3 linked regions of the Homo sapiens genome follow. The protein of the gene in region 1 interacts with the protein of each later gene in a pairwise test. Each region holds a gene or a part of one and is shown in the gene's direction. Other genes may lie near its edges.

What was found. The genes of interacting proteins can lie anywhere in the genome.
Region 2: the proteins of PLCB2 (region 1) and MAP2K3 interact in a two-hybrid assay, tested with the Homo sapiens proteins (one study listed by BioGRID).
Region 3: the proteins of PLCB2 (region 1) and CTNNAL1 interact in binary tests that used the Homo sapiens proteins (3 or more experiments, as listed by UniProt).

What each region holds. Positions count from the first base shown.
Region 1 is NC_000015.10:40,287,392-40,290,954, reverse strand, and holds the end of PLCB2 (1-phosphatidylinositol 4,5-bisphosphate phosphodiesterase beta-2), read left to right. Parts: intron 1-117; coding exon 118-194; intron 195-282; coding exon 283-378; intron 379-872; coding exon 873-930; intron 931-1,596; coding exon 1,597-1,683; intron 1,684-2,015; coding exon of another isoform or gene 2,016-2,036; coding exon 2,037-2,240; 3' UTR 2,241-3,046; downstream 3,047-3,563. UniProt on the Homo sapiens protein: The production of the second messenger molecules diacylglycerol (DAG) and inositol 1,4,5-trisphosphate (IP3) is mediated by activated phosphatidylinositol-specific phospholipase C enzymes.
Region 2 is NC_000017.11:21,301,711-21,308,746, forward strand, and holds part of MAP2K3 (dual specificity mitogen-activated protein kinase kinase 3), read left to right. Parts: intron 1-432; coding exon 433-549; intron 550-1,472; coding exon 1,473-1,524; intron 1,525-2,715; coding exon 2,716-2,843; intron 2,844-3,340; coding exon 3,341-3,418; intron 3,419-7,036. UniProt on the Homo sapiens protein: Dual specificity kinase. Is activated by cytokines and environmental stress in vivo. Catalyzes the concomitant phosphorylation of a threonine and a tyrosine residue in the MAP kinase p38.
Region 3 is NC_000009.12:109,003,464-109,010,499, reverse strand, and holds part of CTNNAL1 (alpha-catulin), read left to right. Parts: intron 1-3,693; exon of another isoform or gene 3,694-4,020; intron 4,021-6,317; exon of another isoform or gene 6,318-6,404; intron 6,405-6,651; exon of another isoform or gene 6,652-6,817; intron 6,818-7,036. UniProt on the Homo sapiens protein: May modulate the Rho pathway signaling by providing a scaffold for the Lbc Rho guanine nucleotide exchange factor (ARHGEF1).

The sequences.
Region 1 (3,563 bases):
ATTCGCCCCTCTCACCGACCCAACCCCCTCACCGACTCCCCTCCACCGACCCCCGCCCCCCGTACTCCCTCTGAACAACAAAGGGCTTCTCGCCAAGCTTACTTCCTCTCCCTGCAGCAAATCTCCAAAATGATGGAGCTGGCCAGAGAGAAACAGGCGGCAGAGCTGAAGGCCCTGAAGGAGACGTCGGAGAAGTACGACTGCCTCCCTCCCACACCTGCTTCGCCTCCCAGCAAGGGCTCAGCCGCACAAAACAGCTCCTTCATGCCTGTCTCTCTGCAGCGACACCAAAGAGATGAAGAAAAAGCTGGAGACAAAGAGACTGGAGCGGATCCAGGGCATGACCAAAGTCACCACAGACAAGATGGCCCAGGAGAGGTGAGCCCTGGAGGGGAGGCCCAGGGCTGGGCAGACCCCACTTCAGGTGGAAAGGGGCCTCTCTACAAATGGATCCTGACTCACTTCCCAAAGATGCATCTGTCCCCTGGCTCTCCAAAAAGCGGATCCCCCCTGTCACCTTTGATCAGAGTGTCCTCCTCAGACAAAACACGGAGGCCAACACTACATGGGCAGAGCTCTGGAGGCAGCCAAGCCTGCAGGGAGGGAGCTGAGGCCTTGGGATTGTAGCCTGTCCACTGTGGTGGCACTGTTTCCCACGGAAGGACAGTGTGTTTTGATGGGGAAATGGTTCCCTCAGAGGGCCCCAGGACTCCCAGTGGCCCCTACATACTCCTTGGGTCCCCACACCTGCCCCCAGCTGGTTCCTGCCCTATGTTGGATTTCTCATTTGCCTACATCCTGCGTAGACTTCATGTTACCCTACTCTCCCTAGGGGTTTTCTCCCTTTTCTAAAACTCCAATTACACCAACAGGTTGAAGAGAGAGATTAACAACTCCCACATCCAGGAAGTAGTGCAGGTGATCAAGCAGGTGTGTAAGGGCTGTGTCCTTCCTAAACACACACACACACACACACACACACACACTCTCTCTCTCTCTCTCTCTCTCTCTCTCTCTCTCTCTCTCTTCACAAGTAGGAAGGGGTGGCCCCAGGCCCTGACTTTGCCCTTAGGAGATGCACTGCCTAGCGCTGTCCATGCAGCTGGGGTGGCAGGGGACATCCTGGGGTTCTGGCCTGTGTATGGAGGTTGGGGTACCAGCCTGAAGGGATCTGTCTCTGGCCAGTTCTCATGTGTGGAAATGATATGGGCTAACTGGCCCATATCAGGGCCAGGGGAGGCTGGGACTGGCGAGGGTCAGGGGATGAAGAGGGAGTGAGGAAGCTTCCTGAGGTGCCAAGGAATAATGGACCTGAAGCTCCCCTAGGGATCATTAACCACAGAACACAGCTGCCACCTACTGGGTCCTGACCTGTGCCAGGCACTCTGCCAGGTGCCTCACATGAGCTGTCTTGTATAATCTTTTACAGTCCAGTGAGACAGGTGCTGCTATCCTTATCTTACAAATTTTAAAAACTACCTAATGTTAAGGAATTTGCCCAAAGTCTTACAACTAGTTAGCTGGGATTACAGCTGGATTCTGACCCAGCTTGCCTGTCTGTGTTGTCCTGATTCTCTGCCATCCACTCCCACCCAGATGACGGAGAACTTGGAGAGGCACCAGGAGAAGCTGGAGGAGAAGCAGGCGGCTTGCCTGGAACAGATACGGGAGATGGAAAAGCAGGTAACAGGTTCACTACTGGGACCCCCAGCAGAACTGAATGGGTTCCGGGTTGTAAAGGGGCCTTGCCCCAGGGAGCTGCCAGTGAGAGGGTAGGGGAAGGGGGCCATCATCCTTCACTGTGGGGTCCCGAGGCCCTTTCAAATGAGGCAGCTCTGCAGATCTCCGCCTGGTTAGGATCCCCTTTCCTGAGAGGCTCCTGATGGGCTCTACCACTCCCCCACCCTGCCTCTCACCCCAGTCTCCTGGGAGCTCCGAACATGGATATTGGGCATCTCCTGTTCCCACTGTCCAGGGAGCGAGGGTGGCCAGCAGGCCCCTCCTGAGCCAGGCAGGGGTCCTTGCTGTCTCCACAGTTCCAGAAGGAGGCGCTGGCAGAGTACGAGGCCAGGATGAAGGGTCTGGAGGCAGAGGTGAAGGAGTCGGTGAGGGCCTGCCTCAGGACCTGCTTTCCCTCCGAGGCCAAGGACAAGCCTGAGAGGGCCTGCGAGTGCCCCCCAGAGCTGTGTGAGCAGGACCCACTCATAGCAAAGGCAGATGCCCAGGAGAGCCGCCTCTGATGCCCCCATCCCACTGGGACATTTAGCAAGGAGGTTCAGCCCCTTCTCTGGGATGTGGTTCTATTCCCCCAGGAAAAAGGAGCCCCAGCCTTCTGAGGCTGTGGGAACCTGTGGCTGCCTTGGACGCTGCAGCCCCCTCCTCAACGGCCAGGCCAGAGTCTGAGACAGGACCCAGGCACCCTCACGGCAGGGCCTCTCTGGGGCCTAGAAGTCTTCTCAAGCTGACTTCCTACCTCCCCCTCCATCTCTAGATAAGTGTCATATATTTGTTGAGGGCAAAAGACTATGGACTGGAAGGCAGAAAGTGGGATCCTGGCCCCACTCTGCCTTTCCTATTGAGCAACCAGCTCTGGGCTCAGTTTCCTCACCTGGAGGGTTGGACCCACTCACCTCCACTCTAGCCCCGAACCCTCCTGCCCCAGGCTTCCAGGCCCCATCAGGCCTGCCCTGAGTTGGCCTTGTCCACTCCTTGAGGCAGATCCTGGCACTACCTCACAGCTCCCTGGGGACGGCCACTCCCTGGCTGAGGGCCCTCCCCTCCCCTCTGCCTGTCCGGAACGGGAGGCTGAAATGGAAAAGCTGCCTTGGCCCTGCTTGGCTGAGTCACAAGGGGCAGTGGGCTCTTGGGTGCTGTTCCACCCTGACCCTGGCTCACCCCTCTTCCTAGGCCTGGGGGCAGGCAGTTCCTACCATGTACCCCTCTCAGGCTGCCTGCCTGACAAGGTCAGCATCATTTGCTCTCCTGAATTTATGAGGTTTATTTATTTTTCTCTTTCCTACTCCTATTAAAGAACCTCGTCCCAGTGTTTCCTGCTTAAGCCTGGTCTCTATTCTACAGGTAGAAAATGGGGGCAGGGTAGTGGAGTGCCCCTGAAATGAAACGGGCTGGGGAAAAAAAAATCTCTTGGGAGCTGAACCCAGGGTGAGGTCCTTTCCAGAGTCCAGTGAAATGGCCCTGCCTCTGGACTTGAAGAGGATTCATTTCCCCTTCTGCTGGCCCTGATGCCACAATCACTGGAAAATTATGTCACCCCCTCTTCGCCCCCACACAGATGTGGCCCTTCATTGTCTCCACTCTCGGGGTTGGAGCAGAAGAGCTGAGTGCAAAGATGTCCCCTATTTTAGGGGGAGTTCCAAACTTTTAGGCAATCTAGGCCCCTTTAGGAAGACAGAGTGGTTGGATGCTCAGGACCCTATGGCAGCTATGGTTGACCTCAAAACTTGCTGTGGAGGGGCTTGTGGGCAGCCACTCACTGCACCGATGACATGATCCCAAATCCCAAATAGGGACAGGCACTGGCTTAGGAGGCAGAGGGGGATTGA
Region 2 (7,036 bases), on another chromosome or scaffold:
CCTCAGGAGTTCACTGGGGAAGAGGGAGCAGGTCCTTGCAGGCAGGGAGCCATCTGCCAGGGTCAGCTGGCATGAGGGTGTCTGTCGGTCAGCAGGGCCGGCTGTTGCCATGGAGCTGGTGCAGGTGCATCCTGAAGCTCTGGTGGAGGGACCCAGCGAGGCTGTGTGCTAATCCTCTTCCTCCCTGGAGACACCTGGAATTAGGGATCAGATAGAGGAGGCTGGCGCCCGAACCTGGCAGTGCAGGCAGAGTTGGAGGGTGGGGGAAGCGGGCAAGTGGGTGGTGGGTGGGAGCCCGGTGAACTGTGGCTGAGTGGGTGGGCACACGTCGGAGAGGGGGCTGGGGCTGGGGCTGGTGCTGGGGCAGGCAGTGCAGGTGGTGCAGACACGGGCAGCCCGGCAGCCTGGCTGAGCTCTGGGTGTCACCCACAGGGAGACGTGTGGATCTGCATGGAGCTCATGGACACATCCTTGGACAAGTTCTACCGGAAGGTGCTGGATAAAAACATGACAATTCCAGAGGACATCCTTGGGGAGATTGCTGTGTCTGTGAGTGGCCTGGGTGGGCTGGCGGGGGGTCCTAGGTGCATAGGCAGAGGCCCAGCCCTGCCAGCAGGCATGGAGCCTGCCTATTGATGGTGTCTTGGGCAGAGCTGGGCATCAATGTGCCCCCTGAACCTGGGCAGCTGCCCTGCATAGGCCCTTCTCCTCCACCCCAGACCAGAGCCTTTGTGCTTAGGAGACCTCCGCTCCTGGGGCTCCTGGAGCCCCACAGATTTGGCAGATCCAGGTGTCTGAGCCATTGATTCCAACTCTTGAGTTCCAGATCATTTTTTAAAAAAGGAATTTAGTATTTACAACAGCGTCATACTAAAAATGCCCCGGGGCAGCTCACAGAGGTACAAGCTAAGTTGGGGGAAAGGTTAGCATCCAAAATGTGTGCTTTTTGAGTCTAAAAAGTCCTTGAGGGAGGGCAGCAACACTGGGCTTGAGCATTCCAGTAGCCAAAGGAAAAAGGAAAATAGAACCAGTGAGACTGGTTCAATCCTCACTGCATCTGGAAACATTTACAATATACCCCTGCCTCAGGCTCCCCACCCAGCCTTCCCAAGGGAAATGGCTCCAAGCTGCTAGAATACTGGCTCTGCCACGGGAGGGGAGATGGGACAGGGAGGCTGCCAAGAGCTGGGTTTTACCCAAGAAGAGTGTGGCAGGCAGTGATGATGCCTCCCTGGGAGGTGAGCCCGGGAGGATGAGAGGAGGCAGGAGGCCGAGTGTGTCTGCACCAGGATTGTTAGGATGCTGGGGCAAATGCCAGGACAGGGCAGGAGGCTGGGATGAGAGGGTGCGTAGCCTGTGCAGCGGGAGCGGGAGACAGGTGGACATGGATGGGGTCTTACTGCTCTGTCGTTTTTGACGTGACCAGGAATAACAGAGTCCTGTCTCTTCCCTCCTCCCCACCCCACCGCCAGATCGTGCGGGCCCTGGAGCATCTGCACAGCAAGCTGTCGGTGATCCACAGAGGTCAGTGCCCGGCAGCCACCCAGGCACGGTGTAGCCAGTGGGAGGGATCCCAGGCCAAGGCGGGTGGACGTCTCCCTATGAGCAACTGTGGCTCCGAGAGGTGATAGGTTGTGACGTGCCCGATGGGGTTCCAGCCGCTTTCCACCTGCAGCCCTGCAGCTGCCTCCCCTCAGGTTTGCTGGTGCTCGAAGCAAGGACTGGCTTGACTTCTGTCCTGAGAAAGGTGGACTGGGTTCTGTTCTGATGTATAGTTTACAAATCGTGAAACTCCAGCATAGAGTGCATATAATCATGTTCACACCCATGCAACCACCTCCCTCCAAGATGCAGGACAATTCTCTCACCCCCTCCCAGAATGTTCTCTTGGGCTCCTTCCCTGCCATCCCCCATGTGCCTAAGGCACCCACAAGTCTGGTTTTCCCACAGTGGGTTGGTTTCGCCCTTTCTGGAACATCAGCCTCGCTTGATGTTTCTGGACCCACCTGGGTCTGGTGTGGTCTCAGTTTGTTCCTTTTTGCTGCTGAGCACAAGTCTATTTTTCCAGATTTACTGCTTTTCAAAAAATGAATTAGGCTTAGTTCCCATTGTCCACTGGGTGCCCATCCCAGCCCCCCAGGTCACTGTGGTTGGCGGTTGGCACGGAACCTTCTGGTCCTTTTTATGTGCATTTCCATCTTTACACACATCCCCATGGAGGGCACGGGGATGTGAGTGTCCTATGCGCATTTGTATGGAGAATCCCTGCTGGGCTGCTCTCCCATGCTGGTCTGTGGGGACTCCATGTCCAAACACGCAGATCCTGCCTCCCAGGCTTTAATTGATCCTGCTGCCCTCTGGGAGCACCCACACAAGCCAGGCTCTCACTGGACCTCATGTCTGGAGGGCGGATGCAGGCACGGTGCTCCCAGCAAAGCACCTGGAGTCCTGCCTTCCTTGCAGTGGCCGGGCCGGGCTGGGCACGTCCTGGCTGTTCCCTGAGGACCAAGTATGACTCTCAGCTGGCCCGGCACCTCTTGCAGCCTCAGTTCCCTGGTCTGACCCTTGGGACCCTGGTGCAACCTGCCCACTGGGGCATGGGAGGGGGCACAGGAGGGGTCTTGGGCGAGGGAGGGGGGCACAGCTATGCAGAGCATGGCACCTGCCTCCAGTCGTGCTCCACAGACGTGGCTGAGGCATGTCCCTCCCTGGCAGATGTGAAGCCCTCCAATGTCCTTATCAACAAGGAGGGCCATGTGAAGATGTGTGACTTTGGCATCAGTGGCTACTTGGTGGACTCTGTGGCCAAGACGATGGATGCCGGCTGCAAGCCCTACATGGCCGTGAGTGGTCCCCAAGCCCCCCAGGCTCAGGAGAGGATGGGGCGGGGAGAAATCTGCCCAGGCTGGCCACCCCGGCCATACCCTCTGTCCGTAGGGGCAGAGCCTCCCCACACTGCGTTTCCTGCTGTAGTGGGGCCACCTGTGTCTTGCTGCCCAGGGGCAGCCCTTCTGTACCCCGTTGTTAACTGACCCCCACAGTGCCCCAGTTGGGTGATAAGCTCATGGACCACCTCTGCGGAGGACACTGGTGGGCTGTGCAGGTCCCGCCCCGCCCTCATTGTCAGGAGGGCCTTAGGGGCCTGCTCCCGGGTAGGGTCAGACCGATGCAAGGGTTGGGCCTTCTAAGCATGACCCAGGCCCTCCTAGCCTCAGTTTCCTCCCCCGTCACATGGGCAGGTGGGCTAAGCTGAGCGCTCAGTTTGGGGATTGGGAGGCAAGGCCTAGCCATGGGGGCTTACCTGGGGCGGGTGTTCACGCCTCACTCTTCCCTCCTGCAGCCTGAGAGGATCAACCCAGAGCTGAACCAGAAGGGCTACAATGTCAAGTCCGACGTCTGGAGCCTGGGCATCACCATGGTACTGTGGGGGGCCAGGGCCTGCCCTTGGTGGTCAGGTGGGGTGGGTGGAGCCGTGCCTGGGGCCCTGAGCTTTTGGGGGACTCATCAAATAGTTTAGGTTCTGGAAAGAAGTATTGGCTTCAAAATCTGAGAAGAAAATGTGCCATCAGAAATTACCATCTATTTAAGGGAACCTCCTAGGGTCAGGGTCACTCATCGTGAAGTCCTGGGTGCTTTGTGATATGGTGGCCACAGGGCTTTCTCTGGAGTTCTTGGTGCTTGTTGAGAAATCACAGCCAATCCCAAATTACGTAAGTTCCTGGTATGTAAATCATGCAAAAGCAAGATGGTAAAGATCTTTTCAAAAATATTTCATAGCAGAAGGTTTGTTGTCGGTGGCGTCCTGGTACATTGCGGTGGGGTGGTAGAAAGGGTGGGCGGGCTCTCAATCCTGGGCCTGTGGAAGCCAAAGGCATCCCTGGCTTGGGTAGGGTGAGGGCAGATGTGGCAGAAGTCCGAAGTCCAGGTGTAGGGATGGGCCCAGAGCAGTTGCTTCTGGAGTTGCCTGGCAGAACCCCATGCCTTCCGTGTTGGGGCTCAGGTCAAGGTGTGGGTGAGCCCGCTCTGGCTCCCCTGTGGACAGTGGATTGGAGGGATGGGAAGACCACCAGGATGTGTCCCCCAGCCAGGGCTAGGAAGCTGTGCAGGAGACGCGTGGAAGGACGATGCCATCAGCAGGTCGGGCTCAGGCTGGTGGCCTTGGCCAGTTGAGTGGCTTGGGACCAATGGAGTGTCCTGGGCGTCAGCTCCTTCCCTGCCCAGGGAAGCCTGGCCCAGGACATTCCTGCTTGTCCCTAGTCCCTTTGACTGTTTGGTGTTGGGGATGAGGCCGTCAGATAGAATCAGTAAGATGTGGTGAGAAGCGCTGGCGGGGTGTTTTCCAACACCGCAACCCATTCTCGGATTCTCCAGACACCCACCCAGTGCCCTGCAGTTCCGTTCGGTTCTGATGCTACCTGGAGTTCGCACAGACCCCACAGGTTAAGGGCTCTGTCCCACCAGACTGCCCCCAACATCACACACCAGTTGGAAGTAGCGGGTCTCCCATACTACTGGACTGACCAGCTACAAATTGGGGGTCCCCATGACCCTCTCGTAAGGTTTGATAATTTCCTAGAATGGCTCACAAAACTCAGGGAAACACTTTATTTGTGTTTACTGGTTTATCAGAAAGGATATAACTCAGGGCCAACCAGATGGAAGAGACTCACGGGGGAGGGGTGTGAGTGTGGGGTGCAGAGCTGCCGTGCCCTCTCAGGGCCTGGCACCCTCCTGGTACCTCCCTGTGCTTGCGAACCTACAGGCTTCTCAAGCTCATGGAATTTTGTTGTTTTTGACACAGAGTCTCACTTTGTCACCCAGGCTGGAATGCAGTGGCACAATCTTAGCTCACCGTAACCTCTGCCTCCTGGGTTCAAGCGATTCTTGTGCCTCAGCCTCCCGAGTAGCTGGGATTACAGGCACCACCATGCCCAGCTGATTTTTGTATTTTTAGTGGAGATGGGGTTTTGCCATGTTGGCGAGGCTGGTCTTGAACTCCTGACCTCAAGTGATCTGCCCGCCTCAGACTCGCAAAGTGCTGTGATTACAGGCATGAGCCACCACGCCCAGCCTCACATGGAGAGGTTTTTTGTGAGAGAGGGTCTCACTCTGTTGCTCAGGCTGGAGTGCAGTGGTATCATCGCAGCTCACTGCAGCCTTGAACTCCCAGGCTCAAGCCATCCCCCTACCTCAGTCTCCTGAGTAGCTGGAACTACAGGTGTGTGCCCCTATGCCCAGCTACTTTTTTAATGTTTTGTAGAAAAGGGGTCTCACTATGTTGCCCAGGCTGGTCTTGAAATCCTGGGCTCAAGCAATCTGCCTACCTCGGCCTCCCAAAGTGCTGGGATTATAGGCACAAGCTACTGCACCCACTGAAAGTTTTTATAGAGCACAGTCTCCAGGCCCCCCTCCTCTCAGCATCAGTTGGCGGGTGATGCTGAGAGTTCCCACCCTCTATAATCAGCTGGGTTTTCTGGGGAGCAGCCCCATCTGAGGCTGTCTAGGGGCCTTACCCTGAGTCACCTCATTAGCATAAACTCAGGCTCCTTGTGGATAACAAAGCCACTCCTGTCACTCAGGAAATTCCAAGGGTTTTAGGAGCTCCATGCCAGGAACAAAGACCAAATAAATTCCTTTTTATGCCACGGGGGTGGAGAAGACTGGAGCAGGTAGGGGTGGCTCTGGGGACAGGTGGAAGGCCACTGTTGCAGATGCGGAGGCCTCTGCAAGGAGGGCACCCTGCTGACCTGAGGGCAGGGTAGACCAGGGGGTGCAAGTGCAAAGGCCCTGAGGTGGGGCTGTGCCTGCTGTGTGCCTGGGTGGCTGGGTCAGAGGAGAGGGAGGGAGGGTTGGGAGCGAGCGAAGAGAAGTGTCTGGTGGGTAGAGAGTTGACGCAGGTGTTGTGGGTTTTACTGGTGTTGCTGCTACCATTGTTATCATCATCATGTGGTTATAACTTTATTTATTTTTAATTTTTATTTTTTTGAGATGGAGTCTCACTCTGTTGCCCAGGCTGGAGTGCAATGGGACGATCTCGGCTTACTGCAACCTCCGCCTCCTAGGTTCAAGTGATTCTCCTGTCTCAGCCTCCTGAGTAACTGGGATTACAGGCTCGTGCCACCATGCCCGGCTATCTTTTTTTTTTTTTTTTTTTTTTTTTTTTGAGACGGAGTTGCACTCTGTTGCCTAGCCTGGAGTGCAATGGCATGATCTCAGCTCACTGCAACCTCTGCCTCTCGCGTTCAGGCAATTCTCCTGTCTCAGCCTCCCCAGTAGCTGGGATTATAGGCGTGAGCCACCACACCTGGCAAATTTTTGTATTTTTAAAAAAGACGGGGTTTCACCATGTTGGCCAGGCTGGTCTCAAACTCCTGACCTCAGGTGATCTGCCTGCCTCTGCCTCCCAAAGTGCTAGGATTACAGGGGTGAGCCACTGTGCCTGGCCTTTTTTTTTTTTGAGGGAGTCTCACTCTGTCGACCAGGCTAGAATGCAATGGCACAATCTCAGTTCACTGCAACCTCCGCCTCCCAGGTTCAAGCAATTCTCTTGCCTCAGCCTCTCAAGTAGCTAGGATTACAGGCATTTGCCACCATGCCCGGCTAATTTTTGTATTTTTAGTAGAGACGGGGTTTTGCCATGTTGGCCAGGCTGGTCTCAAACTCCTGACCTCAGGTGATCCACCTGCCTCAGCCTCCCAAAGTGTTGGGATTACAGGCGTGAACCACCACGCCCAGCCTTGAGCCACTGCGCCTGGCCTGTGGCTGTAACTTTATAAATAGTGTATCTGTAGACAGTGACTGGGAAAGACTCAAAGTCGAAATAATTTTGTCAGAGAGGTGGGACTGGGCCATACCTTCAATTTTCTTTAATTGGTGACATGTAATTTTTCAATTAAAATTTTTTTTTTTTGAGGTGGAGAGGAATATTCAGGCTGAAGGCAGGTGCTGTATCTGCAATAACAGTTTTCCAAGTCCTAAGTTTGATGCAAAGGACAAGTTCTTGCTGTATTTAGACTGCACAGAACTGGTTGGATAT
Region 3 (7,036 bases), on another chromosome or scaffold:
ACAGTCAAATTTAAAATAAACATTTCCTTTAAAGCCAGAAACCAGAGTGGGGTGCCTGCTATGCTTCTACTCAGCACTGCACTGGAAATTCTAGCCAGTGTAATATGACAAGGAGAAGAAATAAAAGGAATAAATATAGGAAAGGAAAAACCAAAAGTCTCAGTGTGATATAATAACCTATGCAGAAAACTCAAAACAGTCTACAAGTAAATTATAAAAATTAGGAGTGTTGGCAAGTTCACTGAGTGTAGGATACTAAAATCAATTGCATTTTTCTACATTGATAACAAACAAGGCACAGGCGCACTGGCTGGTGCCTGTAATCCCAGCTACTCTAGTCTCAGCTATTCAGGAGGCTAAAAAATGGGAGGATGGCTTGAGCCCAGCAGCTGAGGGCTGCAGTTAGCTGTGATCACGCCACTGTGCTCCAGCCTGGCCAACAAGGACCCTGTCTTTAAAAAATAATAAAAAAAAATAGAAAAAGTAATTATTAAAAAAATCCAGTTATATTAACAGTAACAGCAAAATATGAGCTTCCTAAGAATATGTTGCTTTTGCTATGTATATAAAGAGAAAGAGCTCTATCTCTATGTATACACAGCAAAAGTGGTCAAACTTCATGGAGAAAATTTAAAAATTTTATCAAAAGCCAACATGGATCTAAATAAATGGGAGAAAAGTACTGTGTTCAAGCCTAGGTTGACATATTATAGACATATCAGTTATCCCTATTGGTCAATTTAATGCAATTTCCATGAAAATTTCAGCAAGATTTTTCAGTAGAACTTGATAAAAGTAATTCTGAAGTTTATATGAAAGCACAAAGGGCCAAGATTAGGCAGAAGAGAAACAAGGTGGATGGACTTGCTCTGCCAGATTTCAAGACTCATTATAAAACTATAGTAATTAAGACAATGTGGGTATCAGAACAGGGTTGAAAAACATAGACCTGTGATACAGAATAGAAAACCCTAGAACAGATCCACACATATATGGAAACTCGGTAAATGACAATTGGCATTGCTGGTCAGTGGGGAAAGGAAGAACTTAAAAAAAATTAAGCTGGGACAATTGGATATCTAAATAGAAATTATGAAATTGGATCTCTGTCTCATACCAGTAAAAAGTCAACTTCAGATGGATTAAAGACAATATGAAAGTAAAAGCTCACAACACTTTTAGAAAAAAAAAAATAGGGCAGTATCTTCATTACCTTATGCTGGGAAAGGATTTGTTAGTATACCACAAGTATAAACCTTAAGAAAAAAATGGATAAATTCGACTTCTTTAAAATGAAGAACCTAGGCCAGGCGCAGTGGCTCACACCTGTAGTCCCAGCTCTTTGGGAGGCTGAGGTAGGTAGATCATTTGAGTCCAGGATTTTGAGACCAGCCTGGGCAACATGGTGAAACCCCGTCTCTACAAAAAATACAAAAAATTAGTCGGGTGTGATGGCATGCACCTGTGGTCCCAGGTACTCTAGAGGCTGAGGTGGGAGGATTGCTTGAGCTGGGGAGGTTAAGCCTGCTGTGAGCTGTGATCACAACACTTCACTCAGCCTGGGTGACAGAGTGACAGAATGAGACCCTGTCTCAAAAAAAAAAAAAAAAAAAAAAAAAAAAAGAACCTCTGTTCATCAAAAGGAAAACGTAAGTCATTAAGTGGGAGAATATGATTCCAACACAAATAACCAACAAATGATTTGTAGTACCTAGAATAAATAAAATACTCCAATGAATAAAAAATAAAAAGATTAGCCATTAAAAATTGGTCAAAAAATAATTTCACAGAAGAGGAAACAGCTAAAAGATATAGGAAAAGATATTCAACTTCATTAGAACTCAATGAACTACAAGCTAAAAAATCCACAGTGAGAATAAGTGTTGGTGAGGAACGTGGAGATGGTAGCAATATCCGTGTTACAACCATTTTGAAAATGGTTTGTTGTAATCTATTATAATTGAAGGTGGGCATTACCTGTGGCCCAGCAATTCCACTCCTAAGTCAGTACCCCTAGAGAAACTCCTACACACCTATTAGAAAAGTGGATTGGGGCTGGGCGTGGTGGCTCACGCCTGTAATCCCAGCACTTTGGGAGGCTGAGGTGGGTGGATCACCTGAGGTCGGGAGTTTGAGACCTGCCTGACCAACCCCGTCTCTACTAAAAATACAAAAGTTAGCTGGCGTGGTGGTGCATGCCTGTAATTCCAGCTACTTGGGAGGCTGGGGCAGAAGAATTGCTTGAACCTGGGAGTCAGAGGTTGCAGTGAGCCGAGATTGTGCCACTGCACTCCAGCCTGGTAACAGAGTGAGACTCTGTCTCAAAAAAAAAAAAAAAAAAAAAAAAGAAAGATGGATTGGAATGTGGATAGCATTTTTACTTCTGATGGCCCAAAACTGGAAACTTCCCAAATGTCTTTTAACAGTAGTATGTTTACATAAATTGTGCTATGTTCATATAATGATATACTCTGTCACTGAAATGAATAAACCACAGCTATAATTATCAATGGGGATGAATCTCAAAAACATAATGTTGAGTGAAAAAAAATAAAGGTTCAATACCAGATAAAACTAAACCAGATATCATTTAGGGTATACTGTATGTACAATAGTTATAATAAAGGAGTGGTGAACACAAAATTGGGACAATGGTTTCTTTTGGGACAAGAGAGTGATATGGACAAGGAGTAGCCAGATAGTACATGGGCTGTCAGAGATACTGACATTGTTCTCTTAAGCTTGGTGGTGGCTGCACAGGTCTTTCTTTCATTTCTTTAAACTCCACACATATATGTTATATATACTCATATGTTTTATATTTTATAATTCAGACATTTTCTTGAAAAGCCCTGGGCTAAGAACCAAGCATATTTTATGTAGAGTACCTCCCCACCTCCTTTAATAATCACTTTATTCTTCCTGTCAGAACTCCCACTCCAAGTCTTATAATGCTTTTATCCAAGGAAGGGAAGAAGGATATCTGCCACAGAACTCCACCCTGGTGTGGAATATTATTCTACTGCCCACTAGTCTTTTCCTGTCTATGATAGATTTCCTTTATTCACTATTTGTACAGACCCCTTAAATTTCTAAGGTAGCCTACCTCATTTTCCCATTACTCTCTGCATTGTTCTGGAAGCTTTTCAGGATTCTTGTTGCAGTTATGTTGTCGATGAAGAGAGTAGATAAGGCGCCCTCTCTGCTCTTTGCTGATTTGTGTATGTGAATACATGCGTGTTTTTTTTTCTTTTTTTTCTTTTTTGTGATGGAGTCTCGCTCTGTCACCCAGGCTGGAGTGCAATGGCGGGATCTCGGCTCACTGCAACCTCCACCTCCTGGGTTCAAGCAATTCCCCCACCTCTGCCTCCCAAGTAGTTGGGATTACAGGCACCCAGGCACCTTACATCAAGCCCGGCTAATTTTTTGTTTGTTTGTTTTTTTGTAGAGATGGAGTTTCACCATGTTGGCCAGGCTGGTCTTGAACTCCTGACCTCAGGTGATCCACCAGCCTTGGCCTCCCAAAGTGCTGGGATTACAGGTGTGATCTGCCACGCCTGGCTGATGGGTACAATTATTATTTCCATTTTCACAGGTGAGAACACAGAGTCACAGAAAGGTCAGATAGCTTGCCACATGGTCACATGGCAGAGCCAGAATTCAAAACCAGGCAGAATGATGTCCATGCCCTTAACTGCTGGGATATTCTTTGGTGTTTTGCACTTCTTGACACCCTTTGTTAGAAGCTATCAAGTAAACCCTAATTCTTATTCTTTTATTCCACAGCAGAGTTCTTTAGTACACCAGATCTTCTTTCTTCCCCAAGGGATGCCTTTTCTGCCCTCTTCTCTGGTTCATTTAGGTGTTCTCTAGACTCTGGTGTCAGGGCAACTCCAAGTTATGACTCTCAATTTAATATCATTCCTATTTTTGCAGAACTATAGTTAAGATTGTATTTGGCATATTATGATTTACAAAGCACTCTTGCTAGTTGTCTTTTCCTTGATCCTTAACATAATCCTGGAAGGTAAGAGAGACGGTGTAGTGATTAAGAGTGTAGGTAGCTCCCCTGGCTTTGTGACCTCGGGCAAATACTTAACTTCTTCAAATTTCAGATTTTGTATCTGTAAAATTAGGGTAATAATAGTATGTACCTATTAGATGCTGGAGAAGCAAGCATTAAAAGAATTGATACATGTAAAACACATAGGCTAGTGCCTGGTACTGTTGTGCTTAACAAATGTTAGCTAGTCTTATTTTTTATATGATAAGGAAAGTGAAGTTTAATCTCAATTTTGTAAAACTGTGTATTTAAGTATCTATATGTACAAAACAAGACTGGAAAGAATTATGCCAGAATTCTCAGAGGTTAGTAGGATTATGGGTAATTTTTATTTCTTGAGGCTCTCCTATATTTTCCATTTCTGTTTATAAACAATAAACATGTATAACTTTTGAACCTACCTTTTAAAACATTTGAAACTAATTTTAGAATATAAGTAGACCTTAAATAAAGAATGTTACATATTGACTTAGTTCCTCTAAATAAAATTTTAAAGGCATACTATATTTGGATTGAACATTTCCTAGACTGCTTTCCAGTGAAAGGAAGGCAGCCACACCTAATTATGCACTGGGGAAGGCGCTTCTAGTGAAAGCAAAATGTGTCTTTTGGAACGGAACAATAGTTCATATTTTGGCTTAATTGCAGGATCTTTTCTTTGTAATTGAAATTTTAAAACTTTATGTAAATGAAATATTTAATAAACAGAATCACCTTAATCTGTTCGGATTGCTATAAAAAATAGACTGGGTGCCTTAAACAACAGAAATTTATGCCTCACAGTTATGTAGGCTGGGTAGTCTAGGATCAGGGTTCAGGCAGATTCAGTATCCAGTGAGGGTCCACATTCTGGTTCATGGACAGCTGTCTTCTCACTGTTCTCTCAGGGTGGAAATGAGTGAGAGAGCTTTCTGAGGCCTCTTTTAAAAGGCATTAATCCCATTCATGAGAGCTCCTCCCCCATGAACTAATCGTCTCCCAAAGGCCCCACCTCCTAATACCATCACATTGGGGGTTAGGATTTTAACATAAGGATTTGTGGAGGGGGAGTGGGAGGGGGAATGGGACACAAACATTCAATCTATAGCAAGAACTTAAACTCCTTTCCACTGCAGTCTCTTCCAAGATGGTAGCTTGGAATAGTCAATGCTGAGCAAGTTCTCTTTTTTTTTTCATGTGATAGTAACAATTCCCTAGAGTCTGTCAGGTGTGGAAAAGGATTAAGCTGGTGCCAGTAGGATTTGTTCTGTGCTTCCCAGCAGCATGGCCCACAGTCATTCTCCAAATTAAAATTATCGTGACTCTTTCACATGATTATGTAATGAGCTTTTAGGTAACATTTCAATTAAAAAAAATAGGAAAGATTGTAAACCTCCAGTAAAAGAAGGACTATTAGGTGGGATTTGGTGTCAGTTTAAACCTGGGTTCAAATTCTAAACTAGGCTACTTATTAGTTGTATGAGCCAAGTATGCAATTTTACTCAGCCTCAGTTTTTTAATCTTTAATAATACCTGAGGATTAAGTAAGATAGCTAATTATAGTATGTCTTTGAACACTTACAATAAACTGTTTATGGTACTATGTTAAACATAATGCTTTCATTATTTTATTAACTCTTCTTATTTATTTATTTATTTATTTATTTTTTTCAAGACAGAGTCTCGCTCTGTCACCCGGGCTGGAGTGCAATGCCATGATTTCAGCTCACTGCAACCTCTGCCTCCCAGGTTCAAGCAATTCTCCTGCCTCAGCCTCCTGAGTAGCTGGGATTATAGGTGCACACCACCATGCCCGGCTAATTTTTGTACTTCTAGTAGAGATGGGATTTCACCATGTTGGCCAAGCTGGTCTCAAATTCCTGACCTCGTGATCCGCCCACCTTGGCCTCCCAAAGTGCTGGGATTACAAGTGTGAGCCACTGCGCCCAGCCAACTCTTCTTACTAACATTATAAGTCAGAGAAGGCAATATGGCTAAGTGGCTAAGAGGCTAGTCTCTGCAGTCAGAATATCTGGATTTAAATCCTAACTCTCCCATACTTCTTGATGTCCAACTTCCTCATTTGTAAAATAGGGATGATTATTACCCCCATTTTCCAATTTGGGGAAATGAGGATGATTAATATTAACCTATTTCACTGGATTGTTGTACGACATTATAGGGTAATGTTTAGGAGTACGGTCTCTAGAATTGAAATGTCTGACTCTGAATCCTAACTCTAGCACTTATTAGCTGTGTGACCTTAAATAAGCACCTTTGAGCATCAGTTTCCTTAGGCTCATGATGTGAGCCTTCCCACTTGGCCGGTGAAGTGTCTTCATGACATGGGAATTGTCTTTCCCTAGGGTGAACCGAGAGAAAGAAAGATGAAAACCACAGTGACTTTATGACTTGCCCTCAAAAGTAGCATACTGTCACTACTGTTTTATTCTATTAGTTAGAAATAAGTAGCTAAGTTCAGCCTGTACTCAAGGAGAGGGGAATGAGACTTCACCTATTTAAGGGAGGAATAGCAAATAATTTGTGGACATATTTTAGAACTACCTACAGTCTAACCTCTGCACACAAATTGTTTACCTTATTCTCACCTGCAAGTAACCTCTTCCCATCCATATCCTCTCCAAAGTCACAACATCAGCTGGAAATCCATGATGTTGGCATCTATTACAAATATGATCCAGGAGAGACTTCTTGTATGTAGTAGTTCCTTAAGTGTAACGTCTTTCAGCTTTAGGATGACTACTATAGACTCTTCTGTTCAAAAAATGAGAAAATAGAAAGTATAGAATAACTGCTATACAGTCCTGTTCAAAAATGGAAAAAAAATAGGAGCCACTGGTTTATGGTATTCTGAACTCCTCCTGGGCAAATGTTGCCAGTTCCTTGATTAAGACTCAAGTCCTGGGAATAGTTCATGGCTCTTGATTCTGCCCTCTAAGTCATTATTTTACATGAATTGTAGCTCATGTTTGC